Homo sapiens: one gene and its partners. The protein of the gene in region 1 purifies or fractionates together with the protein of each later gene. This does not show direct contact. Each region holds a gene or a part of one and is shown in the gene's direction. Other genes may lie near its edges.

Region 1 (3,659 bases):
CTAAAGGTCAGAGTAGAAGTTGGTAAATGTGGGTGGATGGTTGGAAAGATGGAATGGGGGCAACCCGCTCGGGTCCCCTTCCACGCTGTGGAAGCTTTGTTCTTTCGCTCTTCACAATAAATCTTGCTGCTGCTCACTCTTTGGGTCCACACCACCTTTAAGAGCTGTAACACTTACTGCGAAGGTCTGCGGCTTCATTCTTGAAGTCAGCGAGACCGAGAACCCACGAGAAGGAACCAGCTCTGGGACACAATAGTAGTGTTAGTACCCAAGGATGACTTCTATGGGAGAGATACTTGGTCTGGGAATCTTTAAAAAAAAAAAAAAAGGAAAGATGGAAGGGAATGGATGGGTGGATGAATGGGTGGATGGATAGATGAATAGATGGATGGATAAGTTGAGGGATAGATGAGTGGATGGATGGAGTGGCAGGATGGATGAGTGGATGAATCAATGGATAGATGGATGAGTGGGTGGATGGATGAATGGATGGATAGATGGATGGATTGAAAGAGGGATGAGTGGATGGATGGATGGATGGATGGTTAGATGGGTGGATGGGTGATACATGAATGGATGAGTGGGTGGATGAGTGGATAGATGGATAGATGGGTGGATGAATGGGTGGATGGATGGGTGAATGAGTGGATGGATGAATTAATGGGTAGATGGGTGGAAGGGTGATGGGTGAATGGATGGGTGGGTGGATTGGTGAGTGAAGGATGGATGGATGAGTGGATAGATGGATGGGTGGGTGGGATGGATGAATGGATGGATGAATGGGTGGGTGAATGCATGGATGGATGGGTGGATGAGTGGATGGATGGATGAATGAATGGGTAGATGGGTGGCAGGTGATGGATGAATGAATGAATAAATGGGTGAATGGGTGAGTGAAGGATGGATGGATGAGTGGGTGAATGGATGGATGAATGGATGAGTGGATGGGGGTGTGGGTGGGTGGATGGGTAGATGGGTGGACGAGTGAGTGGATAGATGGGTAGATGGATGTATGAGTAGATGGATAATGGGTGAACAGATGGGTGGATGGATAGATGAGTAGATGAAGCGATGGATGGATGGGTGGATTGAGTAAATGGGTGGACAGGCAGGTGGATGATGGATGGATGAATAGATGGGTAGATGGATAGACGGATAGATGGATGGATGAGTGAATGAATAGATGGATGGGTGGATGGATAGATGGATGGATGGGTGGGATGGATGGATGGATGGATGGATGAATGGGTGGATGGATGGGTGGATGAGTGGATGGATGGATGAATGAATGGGTAGATGGGTGGTGGGTGATGGATGGATGGATGAATGGGTGGATGGATGGGTGGATGAGTGGATGGATGGATGAATGAATGGGTAGATGGGTGGTGGGTGACGGATGAATGGATGAATGGGTGGATGGGTGAGTGGATGAATGGATGAGTGGATGGGTGGGAGGGTGGGTGGATGGGTACATGGGTGGATGAGTGAGTGGATAGATGGGTAGATGGATGGATGGGTAGCTGGGTAATGGGTGGACAGATGGGTGGATGGATGGATGGATGAGTAAATGGAGAGATGGATGGGTGGGTCGGTGGGTGGATTTCGTAAATGGGTGGACAGGTGGATGGATGATGGATGGATGGATAGATGGGTAGATGGATAGATGGATGGATGAGTGAATGGCTGGATGGGTGGATGGATGGGTGGGTGGATGGATGATGGATGGATGGATAGATGGGTAGATGGATAGATGGATGGATGAGTGAATGGCTGGATGGGTGGATGGATGAGTGGGTGGGTGGATGGGTGGATGGATGAGTGAATAAATCGATGAATGGGGTGGGTGGGTGGATAAAAGTTTAGGAGTGAAGGTAGAGGCTGGGAAATCATGGGGAAGTCTGGGCCAAGGAAGTGATTTTTAGGTGTGGCCCAGGAGTGAGACGAATGAATGGAGTGAGGGCTCAGAGGACACTGAGACCCGAGATGAGAGGTGATGCCCACAGTTCCCAACTGGTCAGTTGCTGATCCCACTCCCGTCTCAGTCTCCAGAGCCCCCTCTCGACGGCTGCTTACCCTGTCTGGCTCTGGATGTGGGGTTTGAGGGACTCTGAGGATGCATGGGAGGAGTGGGTCTCAGGGATCAGGAGACACATCCAGCAGCTGCAGCCTAACTGCTTCATCATCAGTCCCGGTTTCCCCTCCTGTGCAATGGGGCAAGTCCCTTCTTGCTTGAGGCCCTGGGCCGGGCCCGTCCAAAGCCTCTGTTCTGGGACTTCCTGAGTAACGGTTGCATCCCCAGGGAAATGACGCACAGATGGTTATCAGCGACCCACATTTCTCAGAAGAGAGAGAACAGGAAGGTGGGGGCAGGGTTCAGGCTTTTGTTACGGTGCGTGGGGCTGAGTCACAGATGGAGGGGAGGACGTGTGCTCTGGGAACAGCCCTCATTCCCATCTGTGTGGCCACTGGACATGCCCATGGCCAGCCAGAGCACAGGAGCCCCATAGCACAGATGGGAAAACTGAGTTTTGGAGATGTTTGGCAATTTCCTCCGCCGGGTCGCCCAGCCAGCACCAGGGCACATCTCAGATCTGTCCAACCTGCTCCCCTCTAATATGGGGGTAGAAAGCAGGCAGCCCAGCACAGTAGAAGCTTGGGAAAGTCCCCGCTCCTCCCTGGATCTCAGGCTTCTCATCTGTAAAATGGGCGTAAGACTCATCCTTGCCTCGCGGGAATGACATGGCAAATCCACGAGAGGCTAGCACCTATTCTTGCTGTCGCTATTATGGATCTTGGCATATCCCAGACGTGATGGGGGTTGGGGGTGTCACGGAGCAGGCTCCTGAGCTCTGAAAGGGGGCACCTCGGTTCCCTGTAGGATCGTGGACGTCGGGGGCCAGAAGTCAGAGCGTAAGAAATGGATCCATTGTTTCGAGAACGTGATCGCCCTCATCTACCTGGCCTCACTGAGTGAATACGACCAGTGCCTGGAGGAGAACAACCAGGAGGTGCGCCACCGCCTCCCTCGCCCTGCCCACTTGTTGGCCCAGGGACCCTCACCTGAGCAGGAAGCTCTGGTGCAGAAAGGGAGGGATCCCTGCTCTTGAACGGGCCTGTGTGTGCCCAGCATGGCTATGAACTTGACCCTTCAGCCTTTTGTGGTCAGATTGCAGCAACCCAAGACACAGACCTACAGCATTTGTTTGGTCAGGACCCCAGACACACACACACACACACACACACACACACACACACACACTACAGTGCACACACGCACATACACAATGCATGCACACAAACACGCACAGACACGTGCATAATACATGCACATACACACGTGCACACACGGGACACATGTACACACGCAGTGCACATGCACAACACATGCACACGAACACACATGCACCACACACATGCACACTTGCATGCACTCACGTGCACAATACACGCATATGTACACATGCGCACACACATGAACACACACATGCACACACACAGTACACACATGCACACGCACACACAGGCACACACACGCACACACAGGCACACAGGCACACACATGCGTGCACACACACATGCACGCACACGCACAGGCTGGAGTGCAGTGGCGCGATCTCGGCTCACTGGAAACTCCGCCTCCCGGGTTCACACCATTCTCC
Region 2 (3,659 bases), on another chromosome or scaffold:
ATCACAAGGTAATGTCCAGTAGTAGAATTGTTGGGTCAGAGTTTGTGGCTTTTAAATTTGATAAATATGGCCCAGTTGTTCTCAAAAAAGATTATGTCAAGACAGGCATGGTTGTTCCTACCTGTAATCCTAGCTACTTGGGAGGCTGAGGAGGGAGGGTTCGAGACCAACTTGGACAACATAGGGAAACCCTATCCTTTTTTTTTTTTTTTGAGAAGGAGTCTCGCTCTGTCGCCCAGGCTAGAGTGCAGTGGCGCAATCTCGGCTCACTGCAAGCTCCGCCTCCCGGGTTCACGCCATTGTCCTGCCTCAGCCTCCCGAGTAGCTGGGACTACAGGCGCCCGCTACCACGCCCGGCTAATTTTTTTGTATTTTTAGTAGAGACGGGGTTTCAGCGTGTTAGCCAGGAGGGAAACCCTATCTTACAAAAAAAAAAAAAAAAAGATCTTGTCAATTATGTTACCAACAACTGTATGGAGATTCCTATTGCCACACAACTTTGCCTATATTGGCTAATATTATTTTTTAAAATCTTGCATTTTAAAAGATGTTTAAAAGCATCTTATCAGATGCTTTTCTGATAAGAAAAACATCTTGGATTTTTTTTTTTTTTTTTTTTGAGACGAAGTTTTGCTCTGTCACACAAGCTGGAGTGCCGTGGCATGATCTAGGCTCACTGCAACCTCCACCTCCCAGGTTCAAGTGATTCTCCTGCCTCAGACTCCCGAGTAGCTGGGACTACAGTCGCATGCCACCATGCCCGGCTAATTTTTGTATTTTTAGTAGAGACGGGGTTTCACTATGTTGGCCAGGCTGGTCTCGAACTACTGACTTCGTGATCCAGCCGCCTCGATCCTCCCAAAGTGCTGGGATTACAGGTGTGAGCCACTGCGCCCGGCCTGAGATGGAGTTTTGCTCTTGTTGCCCAGGCTGGAGTGCAATGGCGTGATAGCTCACCACAACCTCTGCCTCCCGGGTTCAAGCAGTTCTCCTGTCTCAGCCTTCCGAGTAGCTGGGATTACAGACATGCGCCACTACCTCTGGCTAATTTTGTAGTTTTAGTAGAGATGGGGTTTCTCCATGTTGGTCAGGCTGGTCTTGAACTCCCGACCTCAGGTGATCCACCCGCTTTGGCATCCCAAAGTGCTGAGATTACAGGCGTGAGCCACCGTGTCCAGCCTCATTTTGGCTCTTAATGAAAAATTTTTTGATAGTTTGTTGAGTTTTTATGGCATATATTTCATGGGATTGAATATAGGCATTTTTATAATATGCTTGTTAGTCTGAGAAGAGCAGGTATTATTTTGCTGAATGATTCTGGCTCGGTCTTAGGATGTTGTAATCAAGTTGTTGGCTAGGACTGCAGTCTAGATTTGACTGGGCCTGGAGTATCTGTTTCCAAGGTCACTCATGTGGCTCTTGTCAGGAGGCTTCAGTTCCTCCCCATGGACTCTTCCATAGGGCTACTTATGACGTGGCTTCTCCCAGAACTAGTGATATGAGCGGAGGTAAGGAAGATTGGAGAGATGGATGGGAGAAGAGAGAAAGGGAGGGAGGAAGGGAACTGGAAGCTGTAGAGCCTTTTAAAACCTAATGATAGAAGTGATATACCATCACCTCTGGTGTTTTGTAGTGTTATAATGTGGGAGAGTACACACAAGAGTGTGAATACCAAGAGTGTGAATATCATTGGGCTATCTTGAAGGCTGGCTTCCGCAGGATTTTATTAACTTATTTTTTTTTTTTTCATGTCCTCAAGTAGCAAAGACTTTTTGGAGGCAAGTGATAAAGTGAGTAGGAGTAGTGCTTCATAAAAGAGGAACTATAGGGTTATGGAAAAATTAACTAGGAGTTTTACTTATGGGAGAAAATACAGGAGCAGAGAGGAGAGAAAAGAGGTGAAACATTATTAAATACCTTTGTCTCTTAGCTGCTAGCAATTGAAGAAGCATATTTCCCTACTTATCAATTTAATCTAGCAAATGCACAAATGAATTGATTGTATGCATATAGAAGAAGATTGGATTTCATGTTCTTTTTTTAATTTTTTCTGTTCAAGGATGAACATTGTCTCAATTACAGAAAATGGTAATTTTTTTTCTTTATCAGGCCACCTATTTCAAGAAATGGGCCTTCCATTCTGAAGGCATATAGAATTAGATGGAGGCAGTGGTATCTAATTCTCATTTAACTACAGCCTTTAATAATTTAATTTCTGTCTGGGTGCAGTGGCTTACGCCTGTAATCCCAGCACTTTGGGAGGCTGAGGCGGGTGGATCACCTGAGGTCAGGAGTTCGAGACCATCCTGGCCAACATAGTGAAACCCCGTCTCTACTAAAAATACAATAATTAGCTGGGTGTGGTGGCATGGGCATGTAATCCCAGGTACTTGGGGAGGCTAAGGCAGGAGAATCACTTGAACCTGGGAGGCAGAGGTTGCAGTGAGCCGAGATCACACCACTGCACTCCAGCCTAGGCTACAGAGCAAGACTCCATCTTAAAAAAAAATTAATTTCTATCCCAACCATTCTTGGCAAAACCTGTCTCTGGAAATTTTATGTGCTAAATCTACTTTTTTCATCACGCACGAGACGCAAAGTACAAGATAAGCAAAATCAAGTACCTACCATCTTGATATATAAAGGCAATGTTTTGTGATAGTTACTTAACATCTTTCTCTTTCTTTTTTTCCCTTTTTTTTCTGTTCTCCTATTTCTCTCTCATTTACTGATGTTACTGGATAGTTTATCCTGAAGAGTCCGAATTTTGCTTATTGCATCTCTGTGATATTGTTAAATATGTTCTTCTGTTCTCAGTATTTCCTCTAAATTGTTAGTTATGTTTAAAAGTTTTATCAGATTAAGTTTGAATTTATTTGTTGATAAGAATAATAAGTGGTGTTAACTCATTTAATATACTGATCTTATTCAGTACCTTTGTGCAAATTGGGAAACAGAGCCCCCTCTGGGTAGAAAATTAGGAAAAGGCACTTATTTTAGGTGGAAGATTTAGAACAGGAACATTCTAGATATATTATTTTATAATTTTCTGTTGTGATAAGAGGATATACTCTATAAAATTTCAGTCTTTTGAAGTTTTCTGAAAGCTTGCTTATGGTCCAGCATATGGCCTGTCTTTGTGAACAATCAGTGTACATTTGAAAAGAATATACATTCTGTGGTTGTTGGGTGTAGTGTAGTATAAGTTATAAACGTGGTACATATTACCATACCCATCTTGGTTGATAGCATTACCAGATCTTCTGTATCTTTATTAATTTATTTTATCTACTCATCTTATGAATTACTCCACTATGATTATAGATTTGTCAGTTTTTCTTGTAAGTTTTGTCATACTTTATGCATTTTGGAACTCTCTTGTTGGGTACATATTTGGGATTGTTATGCCTTCCTAATACATTTCTCCTTTTATCATTATGAAATGGCCCTCTTTGTCTCTTGTAATATGCTTTTTCCTGAAGATTCTGTCTGATAATAATTTGGCACTGTCAGATTTCTTGTGCTTACTATTTGATAGTGTGCATTTTTCCGTTCATTTACTTTAAAAAAATTTTTTAACCCATGTAATATCAGTGGCACAATCATAAACTCCTGGGCTCAAATGATCCTCCTGCCTCATCCTCTTGAGTAGCTAGGAC
Region 3 (3,659 bases), on another chromosome or scaffold:
GGGTCAGTAACTGTCCAACTGGAACAAAGTTGGGAAACCACTGTGATAAGGTAAAAAAAAAAAATTTAGGTTCTTTAATGAGACTTGTGATGAAAGGGTAAATATCAGATTATAGTGTTGGTATTTTTATGCAATATGGGATAAATAAAGATGTTTTTTTTATTATGCATTAAATGAATTATATTGGATAACAGTAACAGGTTTTCATTAATTTTATTTATAACTACAGATGCTTCTCAACTTAACGATAAGATTACATTCCAATGAACCCATCGCAAATTGAAAATATTATACATCAAAATGCATTTAATACACTTAACCTACCGAGTATCATCAGAACATACACATTAGTTTACAGTTGGGCAACATCATCTAACATAAAGCCTACTTTATTATAAAGTGTTGAATGTCTCATGTAATTTATTGAATACTATACTGAAAGTGAAAACCAGCATGGCTGTATGGATCATTGAAGTACTGTTTCTCCTGAATGTGGAGTGCTTTCATACCACAGTAAAGTCAAAAAACCTTAACTTAAACCATTGTAAGTAGGGAACCATCTAATAATGGATCTTTATGAGATAATTCTATTCTATTTATGAATAAAATAGAGTTCTCTTCTACTCTTCTTTTATCTAACAAACATATTAGCCCAAAATAATTATTTGTAATATTTACCTGCCTACTTACTATTTAAACTCCAACACTGAATCTTTCATGATTATGTATATTTTCAACAGTGAGTCCATTCTTGCACACCGAGAAAATATGCGACAGATGATAAGAAGTTTTTCTGAACCCTTTGGAAGAGACTTGCTCAGTATCTCTGATGGTAGAGGGAGAGCTCATAATCGTAGAGGACATAATGATGGTGAAGATTCTTTGACTGTAAGTTCTTTTTTTTAAGACAGTTAGTGAGAAGGCCCTGTAGGAATTTGAAGAAAAGTATTACAGAAGTATATATCTATAATGATAGGATATGACTAATATTCTTGTTCTAGAAATCACTATTATATAAAAGGGGGGACCTTTGGAAAGGTGAATCCTGAACAGTGACTTGTCAGCTATATGGAATTTCACTGTGCTACCAAAACTGTTAGGTCCATAGAAGCATATATTAGAAGCAAAACTTAAACCATTATTTTTTATATTTATGTATACATTTCTCACCTTATAACTTCCTCTGATATCTGAAATTAGAACAGGCAAGGAAATATCCTTTCTCTCCCATACTCATTGTTTTAATACTTGAAAATAGTATCAAAAGCTACAAAGGATTGTCTTTATTGGACCAGGAAACACTGATCTTCTATATGGTTACGTATGGACCTTCAAAGCTTAGATTAACCTTTGCTTGTATCTCAAAAGCCTTACAACTGAAATATATTTTCATATGTCTTGCCTTAGAGCAAAGCTAGAGGTTACAAACATACTCAACTAAAAATTAAAAAAAAAACAGGATATTTATATATTGTAACCATTTTCTTTTTTGCCTCTTTTATTTCTTTTGCTTTTTCAGCCTCATGAATGATAGTTCTAAGATAACAAGCCCTCAGGGGTTTCTATAAAGATGAATCTCAGCAATTGAAATGTAGCAATTTGAAATTCAGTAAACATTTAATTGGTAAATTGAGAAACTTCTATATAATAAATGTCATAATCAAATGAATTGGATATTATTTTTCCAGGCAACGAGTTGTTCTCTTGTGCCTTTTGGCGATTTTGGTGGTATGGTTCGTATCTTAAGACACAAATCATTTTAGCAATATTTTCTGACAAATATTTATTTTTCATTAACTCAAGCTGACTGAATTGGCATGCAGCCTCACTTCCATAATGGCTTTTTAATGTTTGTACTGAAAACCTCTGTTTCAAGTATCAGACTTACCTTAGAAAGTTTAGGCACATGTTTCCTGAAGTAAGTCATTTCAACATATATAAAATTCATCTTCAAAAATAAAAAGTAGATTTTATTGAATGAATATTTGCTTGATTTACAAAAGGGATCCTCATAGTTGTGTTTGAAAGTTGGGGACTTCCACATGCTTATGATTACTTTCCAAAAGGTTTTTTAAAAAGTACTAAACTGTAGATAGATAAGCACAACGTTTGGAAAAGCACAGATTAACTGCTTTCTCTAGGATTTTGTTGCCACCTTGCCCAGGCAGCTTTTTCTTGTCTGTTCTTAAGAATGGCCACTCTGCAACCAGCGTTTCTACCACCTGTTTCTTAGGGTTTTTGTGCTGTGTCTGTGATGCTAGCTTCCAACACACTAAAAGCATTCTGGGGAGTAGCAGAAAATAACATGAATTTGGAACATTTGTATCTACAGTCTCATGAAAACGGTTTTTTTTTAATTATTTTGTGCTACAATTGAATCATTTGTTTCCTTGAAGTTTGGCATACAGGTATAACATTTATCCCTCCTGACCAGAGTATTTAGTAAGACAAATAACAAAAAAAAGCAGTTATAACACAGAGTTATGAGTAAAATGATCAGGAAGTTCAGCATGCTATGGGAGCACAGATGGAAAAAAGCACCTTTTGAGGTGGGGTGGGTCAATCCAAGTAGACTTCTTGAACTTTAAGGATTAGTAGAAGTTAGCCAGAAAAGGAGGGAGGGGAAAGGAATACTGTTCAACAGAGAGGAAACAGCATGTGCAAAGACCTGCAGGCTAGGGAGCTAAAACATGTTTAGTATCACTTAGCCCTGGAGTATGAGTTGAACAGTAGATACTGATGAGGAAGAAGAGGTAACCAGAGACTTCTTTAGACCGTAGAAGGAGAGTAAACATCATCTTAAAAGCAGAGGAAGCAGTGATGACTTACGTCAAAGTGGTAATAGAGTCATATTCTTGAAATATTAGAAGAGACCATAGTGGAGGCAGGGAAGCCAGAAGGCTGTTGAAGCATTCTTGGTAAAGTATTAGTGATGGCTTACTTCTACTAGGTAATGTCTGTGGTGATAAAAATGAATTACCTCATTTGAGAGAGAGTTAAAAGGGCGAATGGATGGAACTTGGTGATTGACAGGGTTGAAGGAGCAGTAGAGAGGGAGAAGGGAAGTATCACACCCATTTTTCTGGCATGAAGAATAAGGTAGATGGGAATGCCACTGAGATAAGGCATTGATTCAGTACAGATACAGGAGTGAGGTGGTCAAAACAATCATTTTAGTTTTGGATGTTTGGCATTTGAGGCATCTGTGAGTTTTCCAGGTAGATTTATCTGGTAAACTGTTGGATATATGGATTTGAGCTGAGCTAGAGATAATTTATTCATTCATTCATTCCGCAAATATTTATTAAACCCTCTTAAGTGCCAGGAATTATTATATATGTATTGGGGATATTGTAGTAAATAGACAAAATCGCCCTGCCCTCAGAGATTATTTTTATAAAGTGGGAAGATAGACAATAAACAACAAAATAATTTCAGATAGTCACAGTACCCTGAAGATGAAACAGGGTAATGATACAGAGATGGGGGGAAGTGAAGGAGGGATTAGACAGGTGACCAGCGGTGGCCTTTCTCAGGTGGTGATACTTGAATCATGAGAAGGAACTAACTAGGTTTAAAGTCAGGAGGAAACATTTAAGGAAGAAAGAGGAGAATGTGTACAAAATTTTTGAAGGCCTTAAGGGCCCACTGAAGTCTCA

The links.
Region 2: the proteins of GNA15 (region 1) and MNAT1 purify together in Homo sapiens (affinity purification with mass spectrometry; one large-scale study listed by BioGRID and IntAct). This does not show direct contact.
Region 3: the proteins of GNA15 (region 1) and MLF1 purify together in Homo sapiens (affinity purification with a luminescence readout; one large-scale study listed by IntAct). This does not show direct contact.

Annotation. Positions count from the first base shown.
Region 1 is NC_000019.10:3,152,945-3,156,603, forward strand, and holds part of GNA15 (guanine nucleotide-binding protein subunit alpha-15), read left to right. Parts: intron 1-2,073; exon of another isoform or gene 2,074-2,231; intron 2,232-2,878; coding exon 2,879-3,008; intron 3,009-3,659. UniProt on the Homo sapiens protein: Guanine nucleotide-binding proteins (G proteins) are involved as modulators or transducers in various transmembrane signaling systems.
Region 2 is NC_000014.9:60,737,655-60,741,313, forward strand, and holds part of MNAT1 (CDK-activating kinase assembly factor MAT1), read left to right. Parts: intron 1-3,659.
Region 3 is NC_000003.12:158,591,694-158,595,352, forward strand, and holds part of MLF1 (myeloid leukemia factor 1), read left to right. Parts: intron 1-740; coding exon 741-888; intron 889-1,688; coding exon 1,689-1,733; intron 1,734-3,659. UniProt on the Homo sapiens protein: Involved in lineage commitment of primary hemopoietic progenitors by restricting erythroid formation and enhancing myeloid formation.